Linked DNA regions of Homo sapiens. The protein of the gene in region 2 interacts with the protein of the main gene of each other region in a biochemical or structural test. Each region holds a gene or a part of one and is shown on either strand. Other genes may lie near its edges.

Region 1 (6,933 bases), on a different chromosome or scaffold from region 2:
ATTTCTAGTTTTCTTAATGAAACATTCTGAAGCCAACTAGCAAATGGTAATGTCTGCAGGTGGATTTTAATTAGAAAAGTAAAAGAGAGATGGAATTTACAAATCTCTTCTACCCTAAACCTCCCCCACCCCAGAAAAGGACCAGACAAAAGTTTTAATTCCAAAAACCTTGCATTTAAAGAGTCCTTATGCAACATAGAGAGTAACAGGATGGTTACCAGAGGCTGGGAAGGGTAGTAGGGGTCAGGGGAAGGTGGACACAGTTAACGGGTACCAAAAAAAAAAAAATAGAAGGAATGAATAAGACCTACCATTTGATAGCACAACAGGGTGACTATAACCTGTGATAACAGGTTATTATAGTCAATAATAACTTAATTGTACATTTTTAAATAACTAAGAGTGTAATTAGATTGTGTGTAATACAAAGGATAAATGCTTGGGGGGATGGATACCCCATTCTCCAAGATGTGATTATTACGTATTGCATGCCTGTACCAAAACATCCCATGTACCCCATAAATATATACACCTACTATGTACCCTCAAAAATTAAAAAATAAAGAGTCCCCATACAAAAGATATAAGTCACAGCATCCTTACAAGATAGAGATCAGTGACATGGGCAAGCAACCTCACCTCTTACAGGGGGCATGTACCATCCTTCTATAGTGAAGAAGCATTTCCGTAAGTTAAAATTGAGATGAATCATATGGTTTCAGCCCCTAGAGTATGGTATTTTAGATTCAGGTCTAATTCCATAGAAGGAAGCCCTTACTTTCTTCAGGAATGAGGCAGTTTGCCATTTACCAAGCACGCTGGCCCCACTCATATCCATTTGGAGGACTTCAAATGTTGATGACAAGACTAAAGACCAGGAGCCTGGAATTTTTTACTTTCCGCAGGTAGAGACTGTAAAGCACATTGACGGCAGACTCCTATAAACTAAGAAACTTGTAAACTGGTACCTGGAAGGCAATTAGGCAGAAGTTATCAAGAACTTTATCAAAAGTGCATCCTCTCTGACCTACCAATTGCACTTCCTGGAATGTCAACTAAGAACATGTGCAAAGATTTAGCTTTTTAAAAAGTGATTCACGCTATTATTTATAATAATGAAAAACCAGAAAAAGCCTTAATGGCCCAACACTGGTTGAGCATACTGTGGTACACCCACTATTATACAGGATAATAGCAGGATACAGTAGTATGCATCATTATAAATGATGTAGAAATACATTTATTGACATTGAAACATATTTACAATACACTATTCTGTGAAAAAAGCAAGTTATAAAACAGTATGTGCAGTGTAAACTCATCATTGTTAATAGACAGCAATAAAGATATGCAGAAGAAAAAACTCTGAAAATGTACGCAGAAAAATGTTTATCAGTGGTGGGAAAATGAGTGGTTGTTTTCTTTTTTAAAATTATCTGTATTTTCTGATTTTTTCCCCTTCAATGAACATATAATTAGAAATACTTGTATACTTAGAGATGGTTCTAAAAATAAGCAACCAAACAGTAAATTGCCTTATGTTCAAAGGGGCTCCCACATCTGCACTCCCGCTCTCATATCCGCTAAGCATTTTTTTCCTCAAGGGAGTGACCACCTGCCAGGGCCTCAGAAGATGCCTAGAGACAACGTCTTTCCTCACTCCCAAGCCACTCCAGCCCTGCTGCCTCCAAGGTCAGGTTCAGCGCAAGAGTAGGCTCAGAAACAACTCCGAGCCAGTCCCTGGGTCGCTGCCCCAGAATTTAAGCCCATCCTTCAATTTCCTCAGCAGTCAAATATCCCTGGTCACTTACCTCTCCCGAGGGCAGCGCCCCGCGCTTGACCTCCTCGTAAGCGCCTACCTGCTCCCAGGTGGCCAGGAAGGCGTGGGTGGGGGTAAAGCGCGCAGAGCGCGGGAAGCCAGCGCGCACATAGCGGGCGGCCAGGCCCAGCACTGCGGGGGAGGTGTCCTCTCGGTACAGGACTCGGCCTCTGCCGTGGCTCGTGTCGATGTCCGCCAGAAAAGGGGCGATGGCCGGGAAGTCGGTGGGGAAATCATAGTCCACATACTGCGTTTCCCTGGGGAAGTCCTGAGTGGAGATGATGCCGTTGGTGCCCACCTGGGAGAGGAGAGGGACAAAAAGGTGACAGTCGCTCAAGCCCAAGGACGCTACCCTTTCGCGCAGGGAGGGAAGGGAACTGACTTAGGCAAAAAGCCTCTCTCTCCTTCCCCACTGGCCAGGGAGTCTGGATTCAGGGAAACAAGCGCAACTTTTGCGACTGTCCCAGCTCCGCGCTGCAGTAGGTCCAGGGGCCCTAAAACTCGTTCACCTATCTTCTCACTCCCCTCACAACCCCGGAGCCCCATGTCCTCGGAGAGGAAGCCTCCAGGTCTGAAGAGGGAACACCCCAGCTCCGCAGACGGGCACAGCCTTCTCGCGGTCCTAACTGCAAAGCCCGCTGGCCGCCCTAGCAACGCCACCTTTTCTGCCTGGGACGCGTACGTGGCTGCGAACAATTCTTGCTCTCCCCTCCAGGTCATTCTTGCTCCCCTACAGCAGCGGGGCAGGCAGCGGCATCGCTCTCTGGCCGGGTACCACCGCAAGGGTGCTGGGGGGCTCCAGGAGTGGGGTCTGTTTCCTCCCCTCTGGAGGCAGGGTTTCCGTGAGACCGACCCCAGGGAAGAAGCTGCGGGAAAAGTGCCAGGAGGGGGCTGAACTTACGTAGAGGTTGCTGAATCGGGCTTCGTAGAAGTGCAGGGGATTCGCCAGCTTCACCACGGCTGAGCTTTCGTCGTCGCCTTCCTGCAGGAGCTGGTCCCCCCACGACTCCCCGTGTGGGAAGAGCTCGTCTGGGTGCAGCGCCGCGGCCCGCAACATTAGCAACGGCAGCAGCAGTAGCACTGGTAACGACGACAGCACCGGCCGCCCGGCCACCCGGTCCCCCTCCATGCTCGCTCGGCCGTGCGCTTACCCGCTGCACAACGCGTCCCGCCCCGGCCTCCAGCCCACTCTCCGCGCCGCGCCAGCCTCGAACCTGGATCTCCGCGGGCGCCTGGGCGGGGCGGGACTCCAGGCCCACCCAGCAAGCTAATTGGCTGAGGCCCTCGGCTGGGGACCAATCACCGGCTCTGAGAAAGTTCGGCAGTGGCCACCACATCTGGTTCTCGTTAACTTTTCTAAGGCAGCGGCCGCTGGAGCAGCGGGGCTGGCGGGGTAAAAGCTCCTGGCCAGGGCTGCCTGGAGCTGCCCCTTCCACTCCGCCCCCAGGGAGCTCCCGGGTCATCCTCTCATCCGGGCTGCCCCGCGGCCCCCAAGGAGCCCCACCCCCGGGACCAAATGGCCCGCAAGGTTTGGGGCAGCGGCGTTGCAGGAGATGAGCTCAGCGCAAAGGGAACCCCGCAGCGGCGAGTGCGGCTGCTGGCCTGCGCGCTGTGGCCCCAACAGGCTGGCAGGGCGCGGGCGGGTGGCGGGGTTGCGGTATGAGCTTTGCTCCCTGCCCTGGGGTCCCGGGCGCTCCTGGCTCTGGAGGCCTGGCCATCGGTCCGAAAAGCAAAGGGACATTGTCGTGGTCCCCTCGGCCGCTTCGCTCCACCCAGAGACGCCCTGAGGAGAAGCGAGCCTTTGTACGAAGGCAGAGGGCTGACTCCTAAGTTCTGTCCCCCTCCCGAAGGCCGGCCGCTAGGGAAGACTTGGCCACCCTCTGGAAGTACCTTCCCCCGGGAAAACCGCAGCAGGAAAGACCATGAAATACTACTGTGTGTGATCCGCTCCGTTTGGGGAGTAGGATGAGGCATCCCGCTTGGTTACCAGGCAGAAAGGGGCGAGTCGCGGGGATGGGAAGACCCTGATCTCTTGCCCATTGCTGCGGCCGTCGGAGATGCCCTCCCCCGCGGCCACGGAGGCGGTAACCTGAGCTGCTCCGCAGGACTGGAAACCGCACAACCTCGAAACCAGCTGCGCAGGAGAAGGGGAACCCCATCCACCATAAACATCCCCTCTGCGAAGCCTCAGGAGCTGGAGGAGATTTTATTACCATTTTTATTATCAAGAGCTTAAAATTTCCCAGACAGTCTGTTTTCTCTCCCAGGCCCCCCATGAGGTCCTTAAAAGCAAAGATATTTAAAAAGAACGAAAGAAAGAAAAAAACCAAAAAGCAAATCCTTGGAAATGCCTTAAAGGACTCTCCAGAGACACACTGCTCTTTGTAGGTGTTTATTCCTATGGGCCCACTGGACCAAACGCTAAAAAACGTGAAGACATCAGACTGTGAGACTCATAGAGCAGACACAAAATGGAAAACTGGCCCAAAGCAGTTTGCTTCCTCAGAGTGGAGAGTTGTATATTTGATGTTCCAAAAATATATTTATGCTTGCACATATATTTTCTCATTCTTTCTGGGGTCAGGTATTTTTATTTTACTGAGGATGAAATGAAAGTTCAAAGACAGATGACTTGACTTGCCCAACATCATCTGAAGTTACTCCCTGATATAAAACTACTGGCCCTCTGTAGTTTTACTTTATCTCTCGATTCAGCATAATAATAATAACTAACATTTATTTAGTGGTACTAAGCTATGAGCTTTGGGGCAAGCAAACACTGAGATGGTCTCCAATGATCCCCATTTCCTGGTGTTCATTCCCCTGTATAATCTCTGCCCTGGGAGTGTGGACTGGCCTTGTGATTTCTAACAAACATAGTGTGGCAAGAGTGATGAGAAGAAGGCTAAATAAGATTGTGGCTTCTTCCTTGTTAGTTGACTTTCCCTCTCATTGATTTTGATGAAGCAAGCTGTTATGTCGGGGAGGCCCACATAGCAAGGAACTGAGGAGGGCAGCCTCTGGCCAACAGTCAGCAAGGAACTGAATTCTGCCAACAACCATGTCAGTGAGCTTGGAAACGGATCCTTCCCCAGTTGGGTCTTGAGATGGTATCTCAGCGCTGGCTGACATTTGATTGCAGCCTTGCAAGAGACCCTGAAGCAGAGGACCCAGCTAAGCCAGGTGCAGATTCCAGACCCACCAAAACTGAGAATTATAGTTTTGGTTAGATTATAATTATAGTTTTGGTGGGATTCCAGACCAACCAAAACTGAGAATTACAGCTTCAGCTTCAGAAGCTGAAGAAGCTGTGTGTTGCTTTAAGCTATTACATTTTGGGATAATTTGTTATGCAGCAATAGACAACTGATAACAGGTAGTCGTTGTGTTAAGGAAACTAAAGCTCAGATGGGATTTTAAAAAAATCAGTTATTATCACATGGCTGGTAAGTACCAAAGCTGAGATTTGAACCCAATTCTGTCTGATCTCTAAACCTCCACTCCTAACCACTAAATTATATTGCAGCAAGGCCCTTTGGAAAGTAGCTCTAGTTTATGTCTCTAACTTTATCTCCCGTCACAGCCACCCTGAAGTCTCACCTGAAGCTGAGACTTTAATTCTCCAATACAACATCCTCACAGGTAAGTCCTTTTACCTACAGTAAAAGGTCAATTTCTTGGTCAATTTCAAGCCAACACCTTCTCATCTTTAAGGCTTGAATCAAAACCCTCCTCCTTCAGGAATCTGGGAAGAGAAAAGAATTCCCCACATCTTTTGCAAAAATCTCATTAATAATCCACCCCATTTAGCTTATAATCAATAAATAACCATAAGTATAATCAGTCAAGCAGCCGACGCCACTGCTCTGCCTATTCTTTTGTTTCTTTACTTATCTAATAAAGTCACTTTCACTTTACTTTGTAGACTCACTCCAAATTCTTTCTTGCACCAGATCCAGGAGCCCTCTCTTAGGGTCTGGATCAGGAACTCTTTCCAGTAACACTACTGCCCCCTTTTGAGCTATGTATTCATCCTTGAAACTGCTTGCTATTGCCACAAGTAACTATACATTAACCTAATAATGTCACACTGGACACTATCACTCATAGCCTATAGCTTAACAGTGCATAGCCAATCAGTGAGCAATGTTGTTTCTGTAAACCAATGTGAATTCCTTACAAACAATTTCATATCGGCCTACTCCCTGTCCCCCTTTTCTGCCTGTAAAAAACCTGCTTGTAATAAAGGCGGCATGAAGCTCATATCCAGGGTTACTTGGGTCTAAGTCTTCCGGGCAACTGTCCTCACTTTGGCTCAAGTAAATGTTTTGTTATATTTTGTGCCTCTGTCTTTTCCTTTCAGGTGGACGAAGCTTTCCTGGAATCCACAGTCTGATTTAGAAGCCCTTTCTCCTTGCTTCCATGTGCCCTGTGCTTGCCGTGATCATACCTCCTATCACACATCTCTCCCATAATCCTGATCTCCACATGCTTCCCTTACCACCACCACCACCACCACCACCACCACACCTGGAGGGCAGGGATTTTGCCTTCTTCAGTGTCTGCCGCAATGCCTGCCTGGCTCACTTGAAGTGTAAGAAATGTTTGTTGAATGAGTGAAGACAAGCAAGCCAGCCTGGGACTAGGACCCATGTCTGCTGGCTCAGAATGCAACATTCTTTCCCCTACACCACCTTTCCTGCTAATCTGACCTGACTCTTGTAATCCTCTTTACCAGGCTGCCTAGCAACTCACCTACCACTGCTCTCCCATTTTTGTCATTCTTTCATTCATTCATCCATTCAACAACAATTTCCTGAAAGTACACCATGACAAACACAACTCTGCAAGAAATAAAGGAGTACAAAATGTGGCCCCTGACCTTAAAGAGCTCATGATCTGGTTGGGGAAACAGAGCATAAGAGGATGTCACTAGTTTTGAATCTGATGCAATCTGAGTACAAAAAAATAGTTCCAATAGAGAAGATGCTAAAACGAACAGTTTTGTTTTCCTGTCTGCATAAAGTGGCTGAATTCTCCCTGAAATAGGAGGCTTTGGACAGCTGTGCTTAAGAGAACATGCCTTTGAGCTTTTATTCTGATATTATTTTTAA
Region 2 (7,023 bases):
CACAGGAGGGTCCCTTCTAGGACACAGAGGCCAGGCGTCCCAACCCCACAGTCTGGGGGCCACTGGCAGGATGGCACTTGAGCTGGATCTTCAGGCTCCTGCAGATGGGGCAGGGTGGTCATATCCCCCTCCTCTCTCTCTCAGTCGTGAGTCCTGCCTTCCCCCACCTAAGGCACTAGCTCTTCCTGAGCACCAGCGGCATCCGTCCGTCCGTTGTCTGTTGGAGGAGTCCCTGGGCCTTCACTTCCAGATGGGTGGGGATGTGGCCTGGGGTGGGCGGGGCCCGGTGGGCGGGGCCCTATCAGTGCTGGGCTCTGCCTGTAGCAGCTCCTGGTAAGAGTTGGGGTGGGCCTTCCCTTACAGCCCCTGAGGGAGGGACCCCAGGCTGTGTGCTGGCAGGAGGGGGTGGGAATGCAGGCCAGGAGGACGTGGTAGGAGGGGGAGTCTGCCAGAGGAGGTGCCAGGGGCTGGGTGGAGGTGGGTGGGGGTGCTGAAAAACGAGCTGGTGGGGATGGGGACCGCCTGCCCAGGGGTGAGCTGCCTTTTGCTCCACAGCCGGCACTAAAGACAATTCCCAATCCTGAGTGGGTGGCAGAGACTCCTGCGATGCCCGTCTCAGGTAGCTGTGGGGCACCAGCCCACAAGCCGAGGTTGGCTCTCCTAGGAGTGAGAACTGCCCAAGGGCTGCAGAAACAGGCCACCCAGCTCTATCTGGGGGCTCCATCGGTGGGTAGGGGGACAGTGGGGGCAGTTCTGGGCCCACCCAGCCACTGTTCCTGACCCCAAGTCCTGGTGACTTTCTGAGGTGCCCACTCCCATCCAACCTGCCTTGCTGGCCAGCCTTGTGGCTTTGCCCAGCTGTGTGTGTGAGGGTGGCATGCCCACCTCCAGTCCAGCCCAGGGCGGTAGCAGCAAAGCGTGGCATCGCCTCGGTTTCTTACAAAAATTCATAATAATATTAATAATAATATACTCGACATTGTCGGGCTGGGGCGTGGCCCGGGAGTCCGTGTGGGGCAGGCAGGTGCCTACGAGGGGCAGGGGCGTGTGTTGGCCCCGGCCTGGGCGCGGTGCTGCAGGTCCAGGGGCTGTGGGGGCGGGGCGCCGGGTCGGGCCGAGTGCAGCACCAGGTTCTTGACACAGCCTGTGATGCCTGAGGAGAATCTGCCCCCGGTCAGCGTGGCCACGTCAGGGGCTCCGCCTGCCGGGAGGTGAGAGGACAGGGCCTGTGGGCTCCAGCAGCCCAGGAGGCGAGGAAGGCTGGGCGAGCTCTAGCCCTAAGGGAGTGCCGTTCCTGCCCCTGCCCTGAGAAGGAGCCCCAGACTTACCGATGTAGACGCTGCCCTTGGCGTTGACTGCCACGTTGGGACCTGGGGACCGGCCGCTGACCAGCTCCTCACCGTCGACTTGGATGGAACCTCTGCGGCCCTCCCTGCAGTGGAACTGGGTCAGGCCCCTTTCCACAAACTTCCTGGTCCTCCCCGGCCCCACGACAGAGTCCCCTCCCTCTGATATCGAGACTCCAGACTCAGAAGTCTGTCCCTGTTTCCCAAGCTCTTTCTTTCCCCCGCTGAACGAGAGATCGGGCCCCACAAACACAGCTTCCTCATTTCTGCACCCAGGTTTCCTCCCACTCCTGGGGCACTCGCCTGCCCCCAGCGGAGTTCAGTCCGAGATGGAAGCCCGAGCCCTGGCTGGTGGGTTCTCCCCTCCCCTGGCTTCAAGTTCTGTCTCCACAGAGCTCAATACCTGCCTCTCTGCCCATGGTAGGGGGCGTCCTGCCCCACTCCAGAACGCTGGGCCCCATCCCGAGTGCCCGGCAGGGTCCCTTACCGCAGTGCTGTCACCCGGTGCCACTCGCCGTCATTGATGGGGTCCTCAGAGACCAGGCGGGCCTCCCCACTACCCAGCTGGTACCTGCAGTCATCCAGGCCCAAGAAGTATGAGCTGGGGCAGGACCGGGGGGTGGGGTGCTGGGACCAGGGAAGGGAGAGGAAGGGCCAGGTGCCAGGACCTACCTGAAGACAAGGTGCCCGTCTTGAAGCCCGAGGCTGATGAAGTCCTTGCCTTGGCCGGCCTCTCCCACCTCCTGCCAGGGAAGCACAGGGTCTCTGGGGTCCCCAGCCTGGAGAGCAGAGGCTGCCGAGGCCAGGGGGCTCTGCTTTCCCCTCCCCCCACCACTCCGGCCACCAGGAAGCCAGCTTCCTGCCCCAGGAGCCCCAAGAGCCCAGCCGGATACCCACACTCACCACACCCTGCCAGAGCAGGAGGCCACTGGCTGTGCTGGTCCGAACCTCCAGCTCGATGGTCTCGGGCACCTCGGGCAGGCTGCGGAGGAAGAGCGGGTGAGGGGACAGAAGTCCCAGATTCCCATCCTCCCCATTAGGCCCATGGGCCCTTCCAATGCCAGTCTCACCTCCTGGAGAAGACATGGCCAGGGAAGGCGAGGAAGCCATCATCGTGGAAATAGGCTCCGTACTGCCCAGGGGCATCTGTGGGAGAGAGGAGGGTGGTGCCATACCTGCTGCATCAGGCATCAAAATCCCCCGTCAGTTCCCCTGACCCCCACCTCCACGCCAACATGCAGGACTAGGGGGCTCCGAGCCTGCAGTCCCTGGGGACCCACGGGGGCTGCCAACAGAATTCAGGGAGCCTATGACCTTGGATGGGAAAGCATTACACCTCAATTTCACTCACTTCTCACTGAAATTGAGCAGTTCTTTCAATGAGATGTAGGCAAGAAACCAAAGTAGCAGTGGTAGGACCTGCAACTTTGTTACTAGTATTTGCTTATCACATGACAGTAGCTGCAAATATTTCAAAATATCATTTACACATATTGCTGCTTTGAAATTGTGGTAGCTACTGAGATCACCAGATCTTGTTATTTGATGTGTTAATAAAGAAGCACATATATAGCAAGTCAGGAAACTTAAAACATGTTTTGATTACTTTACTTCAGCATAATTGCTTTCCTTAAATCAATGTATTTTATTTTATTTTATTTTGTGTAGTCAACAGGATCCGTGTCGGGTGACCCGCCATTCTACTTGCCAAATTCTGTCTGGCTTTAGCCCTGAAAGTCCCACATCCCAAGAAACCCCTCAGTCCGGAGCTACTGGGACCGTTGGTCACCTTGGACTGTGGCAATAAATGGTTCAGAGCCTTGGTGTTCTCTCCATCTTACAGAAGAGCAGGCAGGCTTGGGCGAGTGACTGGCCCAGGATGTCCATACTGTGTGTGGCTCCACACCCCCCCAGCCCTATCTGCTCATGACCCATCCCACAGGCCGGCACTGGCCACAGTAGCTCTGGCAGGGGACAAGAGTAGGGGACCCTCTGCTACCCTCCACCAAATGATGAGGAGAACGGCTGACATTTACCTAACACCTATGATGTGGCTGTGCGGGGAGCGTCCCATCCAGCTACAGACACCACTGCATTTAACTCAATCCTTACAACAACCCTATGAATGAATATTATATATAGATAATTTTTATTTTATTTATTTATTTTTGAGATGGAGTCTCGCTCCGTGGCCCAGGCTGGAGTGCAGTGGCACAATCTTGGTTCACTACAACCCCCACCTCCCAGGTTCAAGCAATTCTCCTGCCTTGGCCTCCCGAGTAGCTGGGACTACAGGTGTGCACCACCACACCTGGCTAATTTTTGTATTTTTAGTAGAGATGGGGTTTCGCCATGTTGGCCAGGCTGGTCTCGAACTGATCTCAGGTGATCCACCCACCTTGTCCTCCCAAAGTGCTGGGATGACAGGTGTGAGCCACCGCACCCAGCCTTATTTTTTATTTTTTTGAGACAGGGTCTCAGTCTGTTGCCCAGGCTAGAGTGCAGTGACACAATTGTAGCTCACTACAGCCTCGACCTCCTGGGCTCAAGTGATCCTTCTGCCTCAGCTGGGACCATAGCCATGTGCCACCACACCCAGCTAATTCTTAAATTTCTTGTAGAGATGAGGTCTCCCTGTGTTGCCCAGGTTGATCTTGAACTCCTGGGCTCAAGCAATCCTCCTGCCTGTCTCCTGAGTAGCTGGGACCATAGATGAGCACCACCATGCCCAGCTACTTTTTGTATTTTTTTGTAGAGACAGGATTTCGCCTTGTTGCCCAGGCTGGTCTGGAACTCCTGGGCTCAAGCAATCTGCCCGCCACAGCCTCCCAAAGTGCTGGGATTATAGGCGTGAGTCACCATACCCAGCTGAATATAGTATTTTTTTTTGAGAGGGAGTTTCGCTCTTGTTGCCCAGGCTGGAGTGCAATGGTGCATGCAATCTTGGCTCATGGCAACCTCCACCTCCCAGGTTCAAGCGATTCTCCTGCCTCAGCCTCCGGAGTAGCTGGGATTATAGGCATGTGCCACCACGCCCAGCTAATTTTGTATTTTTAGTAGAGATGGGGTTTCTCCATGTTGGTCAGGCTGGTCTCAAATTCCCAACCTCAGGTGATCTGCCCGCTTCAGCTTCCTAAAGTGCTGGGATTACAGGCGTGAGCCAGTGTGCCCGGCCAGCTGAACATAATATTAACAACAGCTAACATTCTGTACTGACTCTGTACCACACATTGTTCTAGGCATTTAAAATGCACTAAGTGGCCGGGCGCGGTGGCTTATGCCTGTAATCCAGCACTTTAGGACGGTGGCTTACGCCTGTAATCCAGCACTTTAGGAAGCCAAGGGGGGCGGATCACCTGAGGTCAGGAGTTAGAGACAGGCCTGGCCAACATGGTGAAACCCCATCCCTACAAAAAATACAAAAATTAGCGGGGTGTGGTGGCAGGCACCTGTAATCCCAGCTACTCAGGAAGCTGAGGCAGCAGAATCGCTTGAGTCTGGGAGGCGGGGGTTGCAGTGAGCCGAGATTGTGCCACTGCACTCCAGCCTGGGTGAAAGAGCAAGACTCCACCTTAAAAAAAAATGCACTAAGTAATTTTACTCTCACATAAAATTTTATCCAAATCTTTAGGGAAAGATGTTACTCATCTCCATTTTATATGAGGCACAGAGAGGTTAAGCGACTCACCCAAAGTTCCACAGCTAGTAAGTGGGAGAGCTAGGATTTGAACCCAAGCAGGCTGGCTCCAAGTCTATACTCTTACCCACTATACCACTGCCTCGCCTATTATATTAGTGATACATAAGAAGAGATGTGTCTGTAAAGGGGTTAGCACAGTGTCCGTAAACATTCAATCAGCATTCACTCTTCACTGTTTCCTTAGCTTTTCAGTAGACGGTGGAATTCTTGGGAATGAGGGTCTTGCTTTATGCATCTTATATTTACTGCTCTCAGGGCAAGGATGGGCAACAATAGTTTGTTGACTGAATACATGAATACAGAGGAGGAAACTGAGGTCAGAGTGGTTTCAAAGGCCTGCCCAAGGTCACCCAGCCAGTAAGTGTGGGGCAGGCCCTAGCTCCACATGGCTGTGGTCTTCATTCTGTCTCTCTGCCCAGCAAGCTCCTCATATAAAGCTGTTTTGCTTGCAGGCCAGAATTGAGGGTGTGGGGTAACTGGAAGAGTGAGCTGAGCTGAAGCTGGGGAGGAGGCCATGGCAAGTACTCACCATTGCCCCCGCTGCCTTCAAGATGCCAGTCGGACTCTGCTATGCCATGTCCAGAGCCTATGGAGAAGGGCAGGGTCCAGTTGGTGGGCATAGACACCCGTGGGTACTATGTCGAGCTCCGGGGCCCCAAGACAGAGATGAAGTGGAGAGAAGCCAGGCCTGGGTACCTTGTTGGCAGCGTGGGCCAGAGAAGCCAGGGAGGCAGAGGCAGCGGGTGCCCTGGCAGGTGCCCCCATGCAGACAGGGTTCACGGAGCTGGCAGGGGTTCTCCTCGTGCTCACACAGGTCTCCTGTGGGCCAGGGCAGAGGCGAGTGGGTGGGTGGGCATGGGCTGGAGGTGTCGCTGACCACCTGTGCCCCTCCCCTCCGGTGCCCTGGGCAGGCTTTCCCACCTTTGAATCCATCTCGACACAGGCACTGGAACTCATACTCGCCAGCGGGCATGCACGTGGCACCATGTTGGCAAGGCTGGCGCTCACATGGGGAGCTATCATAGCATTGCCCGATGCCCTGGCTGCCTAGGAAACTGTAGGTGAGGTCCAGCCGTTTGCCATTCACTGACACCTGTGGGGACAGGGACACCGAGGGACTAAAGGGGCCTGGGAGGCAGAGACCCAGGTGTACCAGCAGGGAGAAGAATGCAGCAGAGGGGAGCTGGGAGCCCACATTGGGCCCTGAGTGGTAGCATGGATTCTCGGTGTGGGGAGGGAGGCGCAGGAGTTGAGTGCCTACTGTGTGCTAGAAACATTCATCCGTCAGTGCAGACAATCCTCTGCCCAACCTTTCAAAGTAGGTGTGATCATGCCCATTTTACAGAGGAGGAAACTGAGGCTCAGAGGTACAGTGTCCTGGCCCAGGGCCCGTGGGTGGCTGCAGGTGGAGGGGCCCAATGCCAAGGTGCTTGGAGAGCCGAGGGGGACACAAGGCTTGGCACCCCTCCCCTCCCGCTTGTCCCGAGGAGGCTGCTCTTACCTCGCCCACACAGCCGCGGAAGTGAGCGCTCATGTTGGTGGCCGGGGACAGTGGCACGGAAGGCTCCACACCCCCCAGGTAGAGCAGGGTGTGCAGGTTGAGGCCCTGGCTCTTGCCGGGCGAGGAGCGCAGCACAGGGCGTCCACCATTCACCCGCAGGCTGCCGTCCTTGTTGAGACGCTCTGCAGACACACGGTGCCAGCGGCCCAGGGCCAGCGGCTCGGCGCTCCGCAGAACGGCCAGCCCTGGGGAGGATGCCAGGCAGGGTTGGGCACATGGGGGCACACGGGGCTCCCTGCCCTCTCCACCACAAACAGGGCCCTGAGCAGATGGGGAATGCCCTACAGCCTTCTGTATTCCAGATGAGGAGCCCATGGCTCAGAGAGGGCTAGGGATTGGCCTCAAGTGACACAGAGACGAAATGCACAGGAAGAGGGGACTTGCCCTGATCCCTGCATTTATCCTCCCATGCCTCC
Region 3 (7,505 bases), on a different chromosome or scaffold from region 2:
CCGCTACAGAGGTGGTGAGGTGCCAGGGCCCACGGAGGGCCCACCTGTTGCGCGGGGGCGAGCACCAGGCGCTGGGTGCACGGGGGCCCGTGCGTGCCTGTGTACGTGCGTGGGTGTGCGCGCACGTGTGCTCAGGCCGCGCGTGCAGGGGCCGTGCGTGCGTTTGTGTGCGGTGCGCGCGCGTGTGTCCCGCGTGTGCACGGGCGTGGCAGAGGCGGGCGCGCGACCTGGCCGCGGTAGTGCGTGCCCGTCGCTCTGCGCGCCCGCCCGCCGGAGCGCAGCATCGCCTCCGGCCAGGAGTGTGCATGCGTGGGGTGAGTGAGCGAGTCGGGGGCCCGGGCGGGGTGGGCTGCGGAGAGCAGCCACGGGGCGCCGCCGTTCCCAGGACGCCCTGGCACCGGGCCCAGCCCCCAGGTCCCACGGCGAGGCGAGGCGGCAGCTGGGGCCGGCCGGCCACCCCCTCCCCAACAGCTGGCCGCGGCCCGGGGGGCTGCGGGAGAGGCGGAGAGGGGGCGTCGGGAGGGGCCTGAAGGCGGCCCGGCCGAGCCCCGCGTCCTCCCTCCCGGGTGCGGGCCGCGGGGGGCGGCCGCGGAAGGGCGGGGCCCCCGGGCGGGCGGCCTGCGGCCCTCGAGGAGCCCCGAGAACAAAAGGAGACGGCGACGGCTCCTCCGTGGTCAAAACAACCTGCGCTGGCGGCAGCCCAAGGCCGGGCCGCGGCCTCCGAGCCCTCCGCCTTAACCCCTTCGCCGCCGCTGCCTCCTTCCTGCGCCTGGCTGGAGGCCGCAGGGGCCGACCCTCCCCGGGAGCCGGCGAGGTGCGGGCGAGGTGCGGACTCCCGGCCGCAGCCGGGCGGAGGTGGGACGGTACCCAGTCACGCCGCGCTCCCGGCTGCCCTCTCCTCCCCTCCACCGCGCGCGTCGTCCTGCCCCGCCCCCTTTCCCACCTGGATTCCGGGTAGACTTGCCAACTCACGGCTACGTGAGGCTGGGAGGGGTGGGGACGGCTCCGACCCCAGCGCTCCCTCAGATGTTTTTATACCCCATCTCCCGTGCAGCTAGGCTTTTGCAGGCGGCGCGCTCCGCACCCTGCATGCGGGGGAGAGAGGTGCTTCCTCCTGCAGGGCGCGGGCACAGGTACGGCAAGGCCTCAGGCACACAGCGCCCCGGGGGCTGGATTCCTTCAGAGCCCCTAGTCCTCCCCCTACCCGAGTGCCCGAAACCTACCTGCGTCTCTATCTTTCTCTCCCTCTCTCTCTCCGTCTCTCTCTCCGTCTCTCTCTCTCTCTCTCTCTTTCTCTCTCTCTCTCTCTCTCTCCCTGTTACTCCCACCCCAAACCCCGCGCCCGAGACACAAGCTGCTTCCAGACCGTGCTCTGGGGCCGGGCATGCCCTGCGCGTGCCGGAGGGCGTCCACCCGGACCCCGACCGGGAGCCAGGGTGGGACCCGAGCCCCGTCAAAGGTCGGCGTGGATGGCACCGGTGCGCAAGCTTGCACCTCCTGGGCAAGCCGATGGCAGGACAGAGCCTAAGCCGAGGCTGGCGCCGAAGTGGGCTCGGGAGGACGCGCTGCCTTCTGCACCCTGGGCACCACCCCACCCCCTCTCCCCCGGCCGGGAAGGGGCTTGTTCTCGGGTTCCCAAAGGGTGGGGGACAGGGCCACACACACCCTCCCCCGACACGGAACGGCTTAGGGAGCCAGATTCGCCCGCCGGTTGGAAAGAAAGCCACCGCTGTTGCCTTCCCTTAGAGCCTGTCACCCCCGGACCTCGCTCCCAGCCCGAAGAGGTCACCCAGCGCCCGGCGTCAGGCTCGCGGGCTGCAAGGGTCCAAAGTTCACTGCAGGGAGAGGAGGGGGCGGTCAGAAGGGGGGGGCGAAGGTAATGAATGAAGAACCAGCCCCAGCCGCCGTGGCAACTCACCTCGGCGCTGACCAGACGCAGGTAGCAGCAGAGAGACAGGAAGAGCGCCCAGCAGCGATTCATGCCGACTCCGGGCCCGGCCCCGCGGGGCCCCGGACGCGTAGATCGAGCGCGCCGCCCCCGCGGCCAGGGTGGGGGGCTGGGGAGGGGGGTGGGCTCGGCTCGGGTCCGCGGCGATCAGGCGCTCAGGCCTCTGCAGCCGCGGCTCACCCGCATGGCCCCCGGGCGCCGCCGCCCCCGGCCCCGGCTCCGTCGCTGGGGGGCAGGGGAGGACCTGGGCGCAGGACCTGGGTCCGAGGCCGCTACCTGGGCGGATCCCGAGCCCGAGTGAGCATCCACGGCCGGGGGGCTGCGTCGCGAACCAGCCGAGGCGTCTAGCCGTGTGGGGGCGCCCAGGGGACTCCAACCTCCAAGAGGAAAAGGAACACGGCAGTCGATGGTTCGTCTTCACTCGCCGGCTACAGGCGTTTTCCTCTGCCCGCCGGCTTAGCTTTTTTGCAACATTTTCTGGAAAGGCCCCCAAAATCGGAAAGCGCGGAGCTGGGCACCTCAAGGCCCAAGTCTCCCCCAAAAAACTTTTTCCAAAGTTGGCTTTGCAACGGCAGCTCGAGCACCCGGGCAGGGAGAGGTGCAAACTCCCGCCCGGGCCGGGTAGGGGGGCGGGAGCGTGTGCGCCCTGGCGCGGGGCCCGGGCGGCGGGCACGGCTGCTCCGCGCGCGCGGCGTGCCCGCTGCGCGCTCGGCTGGGCCCGGCCGACAGGTGGACGCGGCGCGAGTCCGTCGGTCCGTCTGCCCGCCCGCTCGCCGCTCTGGGCGTCCTCTGCGGGCTGCGGGCTGCGAGCTGCGAGCTGCGAGCTGCGGCTGCTCCGGTTTTCTCTTTGCAGCGAGGCTGGAGGGTGGGCTTTTTTTTTTTTTTTTCCTTTTTGCGCGCGTATGTATGTGTGTGCGCGCAAAGTATCTCTATCTAGGGAATGAAAAATGGGCGCTGGCGGCCGGAGGGGAGCCCTAGGGAGGCAGCGGGGGAGGCTGCGGGTGCGCAGGGAGGCAGGCAGGCCGCTCCCGGCTGCAGGAGGAGAAGTTGCCACCCTTTCAGCTGTTCCGGCCTTTATAAAGGAGAAGGGAGAGTGCGAGAGGTGGGTGGAGACAGCCTTTCCTCTTCTGGCCCGGAGTCAGCGCCAGGAGGGGGGGGACGCGGGAGCTGGGGGAGGGCTTGGGGCCAGGGCGGGGCGCTTAGGGGGTCTCTGAGAGCCGAGCAACCCTTCAGTCCATGAATCTGGCCCTGGGGAAAAAAGAACTAGGGGTGACCCACCGTCCCGCCCCTCAGCACAGTGACCATGGACAGGTTAGGAGCCCACGTGGTCTAGGGGGATGTCTCCAGAGCCAAGGCCAGGAGTCCACGCTCCCCTCCAGGACCAGACATTTCCACCCTGGCACAGGCATGGCAGGGAGGGACTCAGGCTCTGCAGTCTGAGAGCCTGAATTCAGATCCTGCCCTGGCACTCGGGAGCTTGGGTCACCTTGGGCAAGTCACTTCCCTCTGTCCCCTCCATCTAGCCTCAACCTGGAGATGGGGCTATTGTAAGGACTCAGTGTTAGCAAGGGAAGACACCGCAAGGTGAACCCACAGAACCCGGCAGCCAGCGCCCTTCAGCTGCAAGCTGGGTCCGAGTCTCCTCCTCCTAGCTGGTTGCCTGGCACAACAGGCCCTGCCAGCGTTGGCTGAATTTGAATTTGTTGAACTGCAAAGTCACACAAACCCCCACAGCCCTGCAGCATCTTCGCAGGGCTACCAACATGATCTTCCCGTCAGTCACCCTGCTGTTTACTATCTCCCTCAGCCCCCGGGTTCGAGGCCCAGAGCCCACCCACCCACAACCAGCCTTCACACAGTTAACGCCTTCTGCCCCCAGTCAGGGAGCTGCTGTGTCCCTGCCTTCAGCAGTCACACTGTCTCAGTCACAGTCACACGTACTCACACTGGGCCCAGCACCCCCCTCGGGACACGCAGGCTCCTGCATCACCCAGCCTCCCGGCTTTGAGGCACCCTCATCTCCTCCGCTTGCACTGTCTCTGTTATCCGCCCTTCCCTTTGGGATGTCAGCCTGCTTCTCACAGAGGAGCACACTGAGAGAGTCACACCTGCTCTCTCTTCATAGACTGTCTTCTTGGACCTGGACAGGGTGGAACAGAGGAGGAAGGACATCTCAGGTGGTCTTTACAGACCACTGCAGGCACCCACCCACTGCTGCCTACCACCCAGCAGCGTGGCACAGTGGCAGAGACACAGCCTGAAGACACATCACCTTGGTCCAAATCCTGGAGTGGCCACTTGCTGGACAAGTGTCTGCAGGAAGGTTTTTTAACCTCTCAGTACCTCGGTTTCCTCCTTTATAAACTGGAGATGAATTTATAAACTGGAGCTGGGTGTGGTAACAAGCTCCTGTAGTCCCAGCTACTCAGGAGACTGTGGATCGTTTTGAGCCCAGGAGTTTGAGGCTGCAGTGAGTTGTGACTGTGCCACTGCACTCCAGCCTGGGCAACAGAGCAAGACCCTATCTCTAAAGAAATAAAAATAAATCTATAATGGGAAGGAGTGAGAGAGAACAGAGAGGCATGGCAAAATTTTAGTGGTGATGGAAATGTTTGTCATTTTTGATTGTGGTGATGGGCTTATGGGTGTATACGTACATCACAACAAAATGTGTGCAGTTTGTTGTACCTCAGTGCAGTTGTAGAGAATTTTTACCCTGCTCCTGGAGTGGTCTGGAGGCTCCCATGAGGTCCTCCATGTGGAGGCGCTCAGCAAAACACCTTAGCAGGAAGCAAGCGCCTGGAACCTTCCATGCAGCCTTCAAGTTCACTGGTGGCCCCGCACTGCTCCAGGCACTGGGGAGACAGGTGTGAACCAGCCTAATGCAGGCCCCTGCCTTTGAAGAGCCCCATTGAGAAGGACAACCAGATGTATAAACAGATAAATTAGGAGACAGGGTGACAAGGGAGATGGGGCAGCGGGACGAGGAGATAACCCCCAAACACTAGATTTGAAGTCTAACGACTCAGAGATAAAAACCCTCTTCCACCGGACAGCTGGGTCATTTGACCTTGACCTTCTGTGTCTTCTATAAATAGAATGGTAACAACTACCATGATTAGTGAGCTGACTATGTGGTAGCTAGTGTTTTTCTTACTCTACCTGTAGCCTCTCCATGCTCCTGTGAGATGTGTTATTCCTATCTTACAGATGGGGAAATGGAAGCACAGAGAGGCCAATACACTTGTTCAAGGTCACACAGCCCGTAAGTGGTAAGGCCAGGACTTGAATCTGAGCAGTCCAGCTACAGAGCCCACATGCTGAGACCACCGTGCTGTGCAATTTTCTGGCAGGTGATGCTGATGACAATGATGACACTTTTGACACAGCGCTTTGGTGAGCGCCACATGCATTAATATGTGGGAACCTGCTCTGCCAGCTAAAAAGTGATGGACCCATATGAACTCTGACTTAGGTACAAGTTGAGGGAGAGGGAAGGCTACTCAGAGCAGCATCGTAGAACGCCTACTGTTTGCAGACCCTGTGTGAAGCGCTGAGAAATGGAATGAGGAAGGAGTCCCAGCCTCGGCACTCAGGGACTTCCCATGCTCTCAGTGAGATAGACCCAAATCATTGCAGTGCAGGTGCCAGTACATGGGTTAGAAGTGGCAGAAGAGGGCCCAGCAGACACCTGGGCCTGAATGCTACGTGACACCTGCGTGACACCTGGGCCTGAATGTTGTGCTAAGGGCTCCTTTCTTGTACCTTCTCTGTGCAGAGGAACAGTCTGTAAAGAACACCTCCCCAGGCACGGTGGCTCACCCCTGTATTCCCAGCAATTTGGGAGGCTGAGGCCAGAGGATCATGTGCAGCCAGGAGTTCGAGACCAGCCTCAGCAACATAGCGAGATCCCATCTCTTAAAAAAAATTACCAAAAAAAAAAAAAAAAAAAAAAAAAAATATATATATATATATATATATATATATATATATATATATATATATATATCTGAGTGTGGCCCCAGCTACTCAGGAGGCTGAGTCAGGAGGGAGAATCCCCTGAGCCCAGGAGTTCAAGACTGCAGTGAGCCATCTCAGAGACGGGGTCTCGGTCTGTCGCCGAGGCTGGAGTGCCGTGGTGCGATCTCTTCTCACTGCAACCTCTGCCTCCCAGGTTCAAGCGATTCTCCTGCCTCAGCCTCCCGAGTAGCTGAGACCACAGGCGCCTGCCACCATGCCCAGCTAATTTTTGTATTTTTAGTAGAGACGGTTTCACCATGTTGACCAGGGTGCTCTCGATCTCCTGACCTCAAGTGATCTGCCCCACTCAGCCTCCCGAAGTGCTGGGATTACAGGCATGAACCACCACACCCAGCCTAAAAATTTTTTTTTAATAACACCTGATCGTCTGCCTCCTGCCAGGCTGGGTGTAGCAGGCACCTCCTCCAGAAGGCCCACCAGGCTTGGCACTTGTTCCAGGCTCCACAGCATGCACACCTGGCATCGTCATGGCCTGATCATCAATCTAGCACTAGACTGAGTCCAGAGTGTTCAAGGGCCTCCTGCCAGCTCCTAGCATACAGTGGCTGCTCAGGAAGTGCCGCTCGCTGAAGGAATGAATAAATGATTAAAATCCTGCCAATTTCTCTTTCTGAGTCCTGACCAGTTATTGCAGAGATGCCAGGCCCTTCCTAAAGGGTGGAAAGAGTTGGGGAGGGGCTTGTAGCATGAGCCTCTAAGCTTGGAAGCACAGGGCCCCTGAAGGGCACCCCTTCTGGAGGTATCAGAACTGGGAAGGGTCTGAAGCCACACCACCCTGAATGCACGTGGTCTCATCTGACCTCGGAACTTCATCAGGGCTGGGTCTGAGGAGCACTTGAATGAGAGAACTGGGAAGGCCCCCGCCCATCTTCGCGTTCAGGCCACTGGGAAATAAGGTTCTCCAGCAGAGCTAGGGATGGGGGCGCCCACACCCCCGTAACTCTCCACCCTCCACTCCAGGACAGATCTGAGCCAAAGGGAAAAAGAGTGGCCACAGCCGTGGGGGATGGGGGTGCTGCCCAAGGTTGGGGGCTTTTTAGACTGTGTGCTCAGAGCTATCCAAGCCCTCATCCATGAAGAGCATCTTACACCCTGGGCGTGGGGGTCCAGGACACTGGCTGGGGTGAAGAAATACCAAGGAAGGAGTTGGGTTCCATCCCGGGGGCAAACTCACGCCCTCAAGTCCAGAAAGGTGAGAGCGATGATCACTGGGAGCCTCCCCGCCACTGAGAGGGGCCAGCAACACCTGGGCCAGGCAGCTCTGCTTCTCCATACTTGATGGAGAGGAAGTGAGGCTCTAAGCTGGAGACCGTCCAAGACCATGCCACAAATGGTCTGAAACTCCAAGCCCTACCCCACTCCGCGTGGCCCTCATCAGCTCCCCCATGCCCCTTGCTGCCCCATCCCCTGCCTCCCTGTCTACAGGGCCTTTGGCTGTCCACAAAGCACTTCCTTCCCCTCTGCCTGCCTCACCCTCACAGTCGCCCAGGGAGAAGGCATTGCCATCGTATATGCC
Region 4 (7,023 bases), on a different chromosome or scaffold from region 2:
GAACCCAAACACGTAAACCACCTCATGTTAAAGGAAGGTGTAAATCTTTAGAGAATGCATTCCTGCCACCATCATCTGAGTTTTTCATTCTCTCTCCCTCTTCCTCCCTCCCTCCCTCTCCACTCCCTTTCCCTCTTCCCCTTTCTTCCTTCTCCCTTCTCTCACTTCCTTCTTTCTTCTCTCCCTTTTTCCTTTCTTTCTTTTTTGACTCCAAAGTCAAAACTATTTCCTTATTACTGTCAACCTAAAGCCTCAGATTATGCTTTGAAGACTTGACTTCTTTTTTATGTTTATTTCATATAGCAGAGAATTTGCTAAAGTGAATAAAATATTTAGTGGCTTCATGAACTGATGAAATGGGCTATTTGCTGTCCGTGTTTTGTTTTTATTTCCTGTTCATTTCCTCCTCCCATCCTACTTATACACTTTCCAGTTTCTCCTCTCCCCAGTCCCCTACACCTATGCTGCTTCTAAACAACCTTTTTGGAACCTGTTAACTTTTTTTTTGAGACGGAGTTTTGCTCTTGTCACCAGGCTGGAGTACAATGGTGCGATCTCGGCTATCTGCAACCTCCACCTCCTGGGTTCAAGTGATTCTCCTGCCTCAGCCTCCCAAGTAGCTGGGATTACAGGTGCCCACCACCATGCCTGGCTAATTTTTATATTTTTAGTAGAGACGGGTTTTCATCATGTTGGCCAGGCTGGTCTCGAACTCCTGACCTCAGGTGATCCATCCGCCTCGGCCTCCCAAAGTGCTGGGATTACAGATGCAAACCACGGCACCCAGCCTATCTTTAAAATATTCCCTGAAAAAAAATAATAAAGCCAAGTTCAGCGGCCTACAGAAGAGTATCAGGACACGTAGGGAAGCACCTTAATGTCATGGGAAAATATCCTGAAGTTTTAATATGCCGTACCAGAAGGGGGAACAAAGAATTACAACAGAGAAGCATTTCTCAAACTGTTTGGAGTGAGAGATTAATGAATTTGCTCAGGGGAAAAAAGGTGCTCTGGTCAAATAGGTTTGTTAAACCTTGAATACTCTATGTCTCTCCTCCTGGAGAATACCAATATACATTAGCATATAAAAGGTTCTGCGAAGTCCTGCAATAAAGAAACCTGTTACACATCTACACATCACCTTAGCACCTCTCACACTCACTTGACCATGGCACCCTTCTCCCCACTCCATTCCAAACACTTATTTGTACCTTTCAGTTTCAGAAAACAAAGTTCAAATTATCTTTACATCAAAAACTTACTATCTTTCCTTTACAGACTCAAAATCAGATCCTGAACTCCTGTCAAAAAGGAAAAAAGAAAAGCTCCCAACCAAGCCAACAGTGTCAACTTCAAAAGCCTTCAGAGTTGGAACGTGCCTGCACATCTCTGATACATCAACTACAACATCAAACTAGAAGCTTTGCACAAAATCTAAGGAGAAGGGTCTTACACATCTGTGTACCAGGTGGGCAATTCCATGAGAGGGGAACATGGTAGTATAACTTAGCTTGACAACTGTCCCTGTGGGCATTCTTATTTCACAACATTTAGCTATCGAGGGTATCACTACTTTAATCTTGCATTTGTCCACCACAAAGCTCATTTACACGGCCTCTTAAACAAACATGGCCAGAGCACATGGTCCTACGTTTCACTTCAGCTTCACCACGCCAGATGACTTTTGTACGCAGGCCCAGCCATGATATGAGTGAAGCAGCAGGAGGCAGAGGAACGGTGGTTTGGCTGATTTGGAAGACAATGTATCATAATAAATCTTGGGCAGAGAGGAAAATTGAATGGACTCACCATACACAACCAGAGAGACCACATGGCTCTGCTTCTCCTTTGAAATGGGATTGGTAAGGATGACAGTGTAATTTCCTGTGTCTCTTTCACTCACTTCCATAATCGTCAGTACATGCCCCGCTTTAATTGTGTGATTGGACTCAAGGGGTATTCCATTTTTATACCTATGAAAAAAAATTCTCAGGAATTAGTATAGTCAAAGGATTTGCTCTCACACGAAATGATGCTTTGCATTTATTTCCAGTAGTTACCATTTTATTTCTGGGGGTGGGTAACCAAGGTACTTCGCAGGGATTCTGACACGCTCCCCCACCGTGGCTTCCACCAGAGATTCCATGCCACTTCCAAAAGCAACAAAAGGTTTTTCTGGAAGAAAATAAAAAAAAAAAAAGGTCAACTTACTGTAAATGGTCATTTGATTTAGTTTTTCATTTCAAGTGAAACGTCAAAGACCTTGAGGGTCTGAGTAGCTGCAGTTCCAAGATTTCCTGTACTATCTTTCAGTGGGTCACTTTTCAGCTTCTCCCACACCTCCCGTGTTTCTCCCACACCTCCTGTGTTTGCATTTGCTTTTCTCTCCCCGCTAGTGCACTCCCACAAGCCTAGTGATTGCTCAAGTCTCAACTCAAACACTTGCTCCTCTGTGCAGCTTTCTCTAAGTCCCCCAGGGATGCTTGGGTGCTCCTTCTCCTCTGCTCCCATGACAGCCTCCACACACCTCTTCCACCATGAGGCCCCAGGACTCAGTCCTCAGACCTCCTCTTTATTTACACCTTCCTCTAGCCTCAGGTTTAAAGTATCATTCACGTACCTCCTAAATGTGTTATCTTCTGCCCTGACTCCTCTGGGTTCCGGGTTGATATGTTAAATATCTCCACTTGGATGTTTAACAGGCATCTCCAGATAAACATATCTAACACTGTTTCCCTAAATCTCACTGCCTTCTCGATCTTTGCCATCTCAGTAAATAACACCATCATTTACTCAGTTGCTCATGCTAACGCTCGAGTCATCTTCCACTCTTTTTCTCTTATACTCCACAACCAATGAATTGATCAGCGGACCCTGTTGACTCTACCTTCAAAATATATCCAGAAGCAGATCACCTCTCACTACCTCCACCTCAACTACCCTTGTCTAAGCCACCCCTCAACTCTCACTTGGATAACTGCAATTAGCCTCCCAACTGACCTCCTTATTTCTGCCCCTATTTCCCTGAAGTATTCTGGAAAACAAAAGTAATTCTATAAAAACATAAGCCAGAGCACATCTCTCTCTGTGTATTTTGACAAGTGCATCTTGGCAAGTGAAATAATTTAAATAAATTTAGGACACTTAGTGATTTCTATTTTGTTCATTCAGAAGAAATTTTCAAGTTCTTGCTAGGGATGCCACGTGACCTAGAGGTCAAGAGCATAGCTTTGTAGTCAGGAACTTGAGTTCCAATCTCAGCTTCAAAGATGAGATGAGCTAATAAAGTAAGTGCTCACTAAATCATACTTGTTATAGTTGTTGCCACTTTTATGATTACAACTCTAATAAATAGCATTATCTAAGGTATTTTTAAAATTTCACTGTATTGATGCATTCTCATAATATAAACTCCAAAATCCTTTCCAAGGCTTATAAGTAGGATGCCACACAAATTACCATGTAAACTCAGACATTTATGTAAATGAAAGAGAATAAACAAAAAATTAAGGTGATTTTCTCAAGGCCAGTTCAATTTAATTCCAGTTCAATTACAGTTGACCCTTAAATAACACAAACTTGAACTACATGAGTCCACTTATAAGCAGATTTTCTTCCACCTCTGCCACCCCTGAGACAGCAAAACCACCCCCTCCTCTTCCCCCTTTTCCTCAGCCTACTCAACGTGAAGACAAGGATGAAGACCTTTATGATGATCCACTTACACTTAATGAATAGTAAATATATTTTCTCTTCCTTACAATTTTCTTAATAACATTTTCTTTTCTCTAGCTTTATTGGAAGAATACAGTATATAATACATATAACATATAAAATATGTGTTAATTGACTGTTTATGTTATCAGTAGGGCTTCCAGTCAACAGTAGGCCATTAGTTATGTTTTGTGGAAGTCAAAAGTTATACCTTGATTTTTTTTTTTTTTTTTTTTTTGAGAAGGAGTTTCACTCTTGTTGCCCAGGCTGGGGTACAATGGCACGATCTTGGCTCACTGCAACCTCCACCTCCTGGGTTCAAGCAATTCTCCTGCCTCAGCCTCCTGAGTAGCTGGGATTACAAGCTCCCACCACCACACCAGGCTAATTTTTTGGATTTTTAGTAGAGATGGGGTTCCACCATGTTGACCAGGCTGGTTTCGAACTCCTGATCTCAGGTGATCCACCCACCTCAGACTCCCAAAGTGTTGGGATTACAGGCGTGAGCCACCGCGCCCGGCCTATACATGGATTTTTGACTGCAGAGGAGGGAAAGTTAGGGGAACTCCCCTGAGTTCCCCCAATCCCTGAGTTGCTCACAGGTCAACTGTATATTGCTAAATGTTTCCCCAGTTTGCAAAGCTCATGCTTATTCAAGTAGGCCTCTCAGCCTTGCAATAAAATGAAAATTTAAAAACTACCTTAGCTAATACTATTTATCATAGTAACAATCCTAATAGCAGCAATAACTATAATAAGTAATACTAAATGAACTCTTACTGTATATCAGCACATCTCATCTTTAAAGTTGAGGTTTGAACCCAAGTTCCTGACTACAAAGCTATGCTCTTGACCTCTAGGTCATGTGGCCTCCCTAACAAGAAAAACTAGAAACTATCTTCTGAATGAACAAAATAGGAATCACTAAGTGACCTAAATTTATTTAAATTATCTCACTTGTCAAGGCACAGAATAATTTCCAAGACCATAGCTTACCATGGACCCTGACAAATGTGCTGTTCTTCTTGGTCATCAGCCCACTGGATGCTGCACAGGTGTACAATCCTTGGTCACTCCGGGTTACACCATCTATAGTTAAGGTGCTCAAAAATTTCTTCATCTCACTCCCAGACTGGGTTTTTAGGTCTCGGTTTACAAGTTTCTTATGCTGATGCTGAAAAAAAGAGTTGACTGAACTTCCAAAGCACAGCATATAACATTACCCAATAACTTCTAGTAACACACAGAATTAAATCTGGGCTTTGGTAAACATTATTTAATGCTAAAAACAGGGACACCAGAACTTTTAACCTCATGCAGACAACAAATATATTTTGTTTCAGGAGAAATAAATGGAACCAACTGAATTAGGATTTTTAAAACCTCACGTGGTGAAAGTGAGATGGATATAAACTGCAGAAACACAAGTAAATGTGACCACTGTTTAAGGAGCAGTGTATCTCATGCCACCTCTTAAAGAGAAATTCCCTTAAAAGGAATGTAGATCAAAAACTTTGGAGAACAGAGAAATGACATAATGTGGAAAGATGTAATCACCTAGAGAAAACTAATATTCATAGCCTGGCTATTGCAGAATAGGACAAAATTCCTGGTATTTCACCTTTTGGTGGGTGCTATCTGTTCTGCAATTCCCTTAAATTGTGTGTGTGTGTATGTGTGTGTGAGTGGGTGTGTATGTGTGTGTGTTTAAGGCTCTTACATTTTATCTGGCCAAAGAGGCCCCTATCTCTCAAGCAAACTTCACTGGGGCTTATTATCTAAGTATTTGGAGGTCTGGCTTTGAATCATTAGCGTTACCTTCGAAGAAGGGTATTCCCAGTTGAAGTCAATCCCCACATTTAGTTCAGTTCTTGCTGTACAATTTAAGACAAGCTTTTCTCCAACAGATAGTTCAATTCCATGAGACGGACTCAGAACCACATCATAAATCCTATACCCTAGAGCAAGTAAATTGAAAAAACAGAACATGAGAGAGCAAATAAGCCTATAACTTTGCACAGATTTATTTTTTAAAGTAATGCAACTTTAAAACATGCCACATTGTTTTTCCCTGCAGGCCTCACCAATACTTGGTAGCTCCCAGGAAAATGGCCAACAGAGGTTTACAAAGCACTACCTTCACAGATCTCAAAGATGTTGTAACCCAGTGGACAGAAAAGTAGTAAACTTTCAGTGGTCAGTAGCCCTAGGCCAGTAGGGCCAGCTTTAGCAAATTGCTGAAGTTTCCATAAAATAGTCATAATTGAAATAATTGATAGCAAGCAATGCTCTGAACATTGAATTCTTCATAAAATGTGCTCGAGTAATACCATTCGCTTTCATCCTTTTTTTAAAAAGTTTTCTTTTTCTTCCTTAATCTTGGCAAGAAAAGAGACAACCTCAATTGCACATGGGTTTATTTGGTAGAGAAGAGCAGATGAATTGCCCAACACCATATCCTGAGTTCCTATACTTTTCAATATCCTTCTTCACTCTATGTTGTTATCTCCAAGATCTTAATACAAGGATATGTTATTAATGATATGGAAAGGAAATGTCCTCTTACCTACAACGACAACTATGTACATAATAGACTGGTAACTTTCATCATTAATTTTTGCTTCACAGAAGACCATGCCAGCATAGCTGATCATGTAGCTGGGAATAGTAAAGCCCTTCTTGCTGTCCCAGGAAATTCTGTTACCATCAGGAACAAATCTCTTTTCTGGGTATCTCTGGGTAATAAAAAGACATATCAAATATTTAATCCAGTACCAAAAATGAGAGCCATGTACAATGATCACTGAAGAATTCATCTTATTTTTAAGAATACTAATTAGTTTTATTCATTGCATTTGACCCTTCCTAAAGGATCCTTAAAACTCATTGTGAATATTATAAACAGGTTACCCATCTTAATATTAGCTTAAAATTATAAAAACTTAAGAGACGATTGGAGGAGATGCAACTTACTGCACAAAGTGACACGTTGAGATTTGAAATGGACCCGAGACATGGAATCACCACAGTTTTGTTTTTGTTCTCAGTAATGTACACGACTCCATGTTGGTCACTAACAGAAGCAATAAATGGAGATCTGTAATCTAGAAGAAAATTTAGTTTTATTAATGAGTTAATAGTATTTACTAGAAAAGTTGGTCATTTTTCAGGTTCCTAAACTCTAACCAGACAAGTGAATGACTGGAAGGGACACCTCACACAACCAAAGGCATCCACAGATTATTCTGCTGATAGATATCTGTGCTACATGAGGGTGTGTGTGTATGTGTGTGTGTGTGTTTGTGCATG

Evidence for each region.
Region 1: the proteins of HSPG2 (region 2) and NID2 form a complex in vitro, tested with the Homo sapiens proteins (one study listed by BioGRID).
Region 3: the proteins of HSPG2 (region 2) and PDGFB form a complex in vitro, tested with the Homo sapiens proteins (one study listed by BioGRID).
Region 4: the proteins of HSPG2 (region 2) and KDR form a complex in vitro, tested with the Homo sapiens proteins (2 studies listed by IntAct).

What each region holds. Positions count from the first base shown.
Region 1 is NC_000014.9:52,066,047-52,072,979, forward strand, and holds the start of NID2 (nidogen-2 precursor), read right to left. Parts: upstream 3,014-6,933; 5' UTR 2,949-3,013; coding exon 2,721-2,948; intron 2,118-2,720; coding exon 1,812-2,117; intron 1-1,811.
Region 2 is NC_000001.11:21,822,288-21,829,310, forward strand, and holds part of HSPG2 (basement membrane-specific heparan sulfate proteoglycan core protein isoform b precursor), read right to left. Parts: intron 6,793-7,023; coding exon 6,548-6,792; intron 6,140-6,547; coding exon 5,968-6,139; intron 5,866-5,967; coding exon 5,743-5,865; intron 5,633-5,742; coding exon 5,576-5,632; intron 2,939-5,575; exon of another isoform or gene 2,493-2,938; coding exon 2,417-2,492; exon of another isoform or gene 2,329-2,416; coding exon 2,250-2,328; exon of another isoform or gene 2,090-2,249; coding exon 2,019-2,089; exon of another isoform or gene 1,918-2,018; coding exon 1,834-1,917; exon of another isoform or gene 1,433-1,833; coding exon 1,329-1,432; exon of another isoform or gene 1,202-1,328; coding exon 1,029-1,201; 3' UTR 1-1,028. UniProt on the Homo sapiens protein: Integral component of basement membranes. Component of the glomerular basement membrane (GBM), responsible for the fixed negative electrostatic membrane charge, and which provides a barrier which is both size- and charge-selective.
Region 3 is NC_000022.11:39,241,983-39,249,487, forward strand, and holds the start of PDGFB (platelet-derived growth factor subunit B isoform 1 preproprotein), read right to left. Parts: upstream 3,001-7,505; 5' UTR 1,982-3,000; coding exon 1,919-1,981; exon of another isoform or gene 944-1,918; intron 1-943. UniProt on the Homo sapiens protein: Growth factor that plays an essential role in the regulation of embryonic development, cell proliferation, cell migration, survival and chemotaxis. Potent mitogen for cells of mesenchymal origin.
Region 4 is NC_000004.12:55,108,594-55,115,616, forward strand, and holds part of KDR (vascular endothelial growth factor receptor 2 precursor), read right to left. Parts: intron 6,819-7,023; coding exon 6,688-6,818; intron 6,450-6,687; coding exon 6,281-6,449; intron 5,673-6,280; coding exon 5,533-5,672; intron 4,889-5,532; coding exon 4,711-4,888; intron 2,176-4,710; coding exon 2,061-2,175; intron 1,974-2,060; coding exon 1,810-1,973; intron 1-1,809. UniProt on the Homo sapiens protein: Tyrosine-protein kinase that acts as a cell-surface receptor for VEGFA, VEGFC and VEGFD. Plays an essential role in the regulation of angiogenesis, vascular development, vascular permeability, and embryonic hematopoiesis.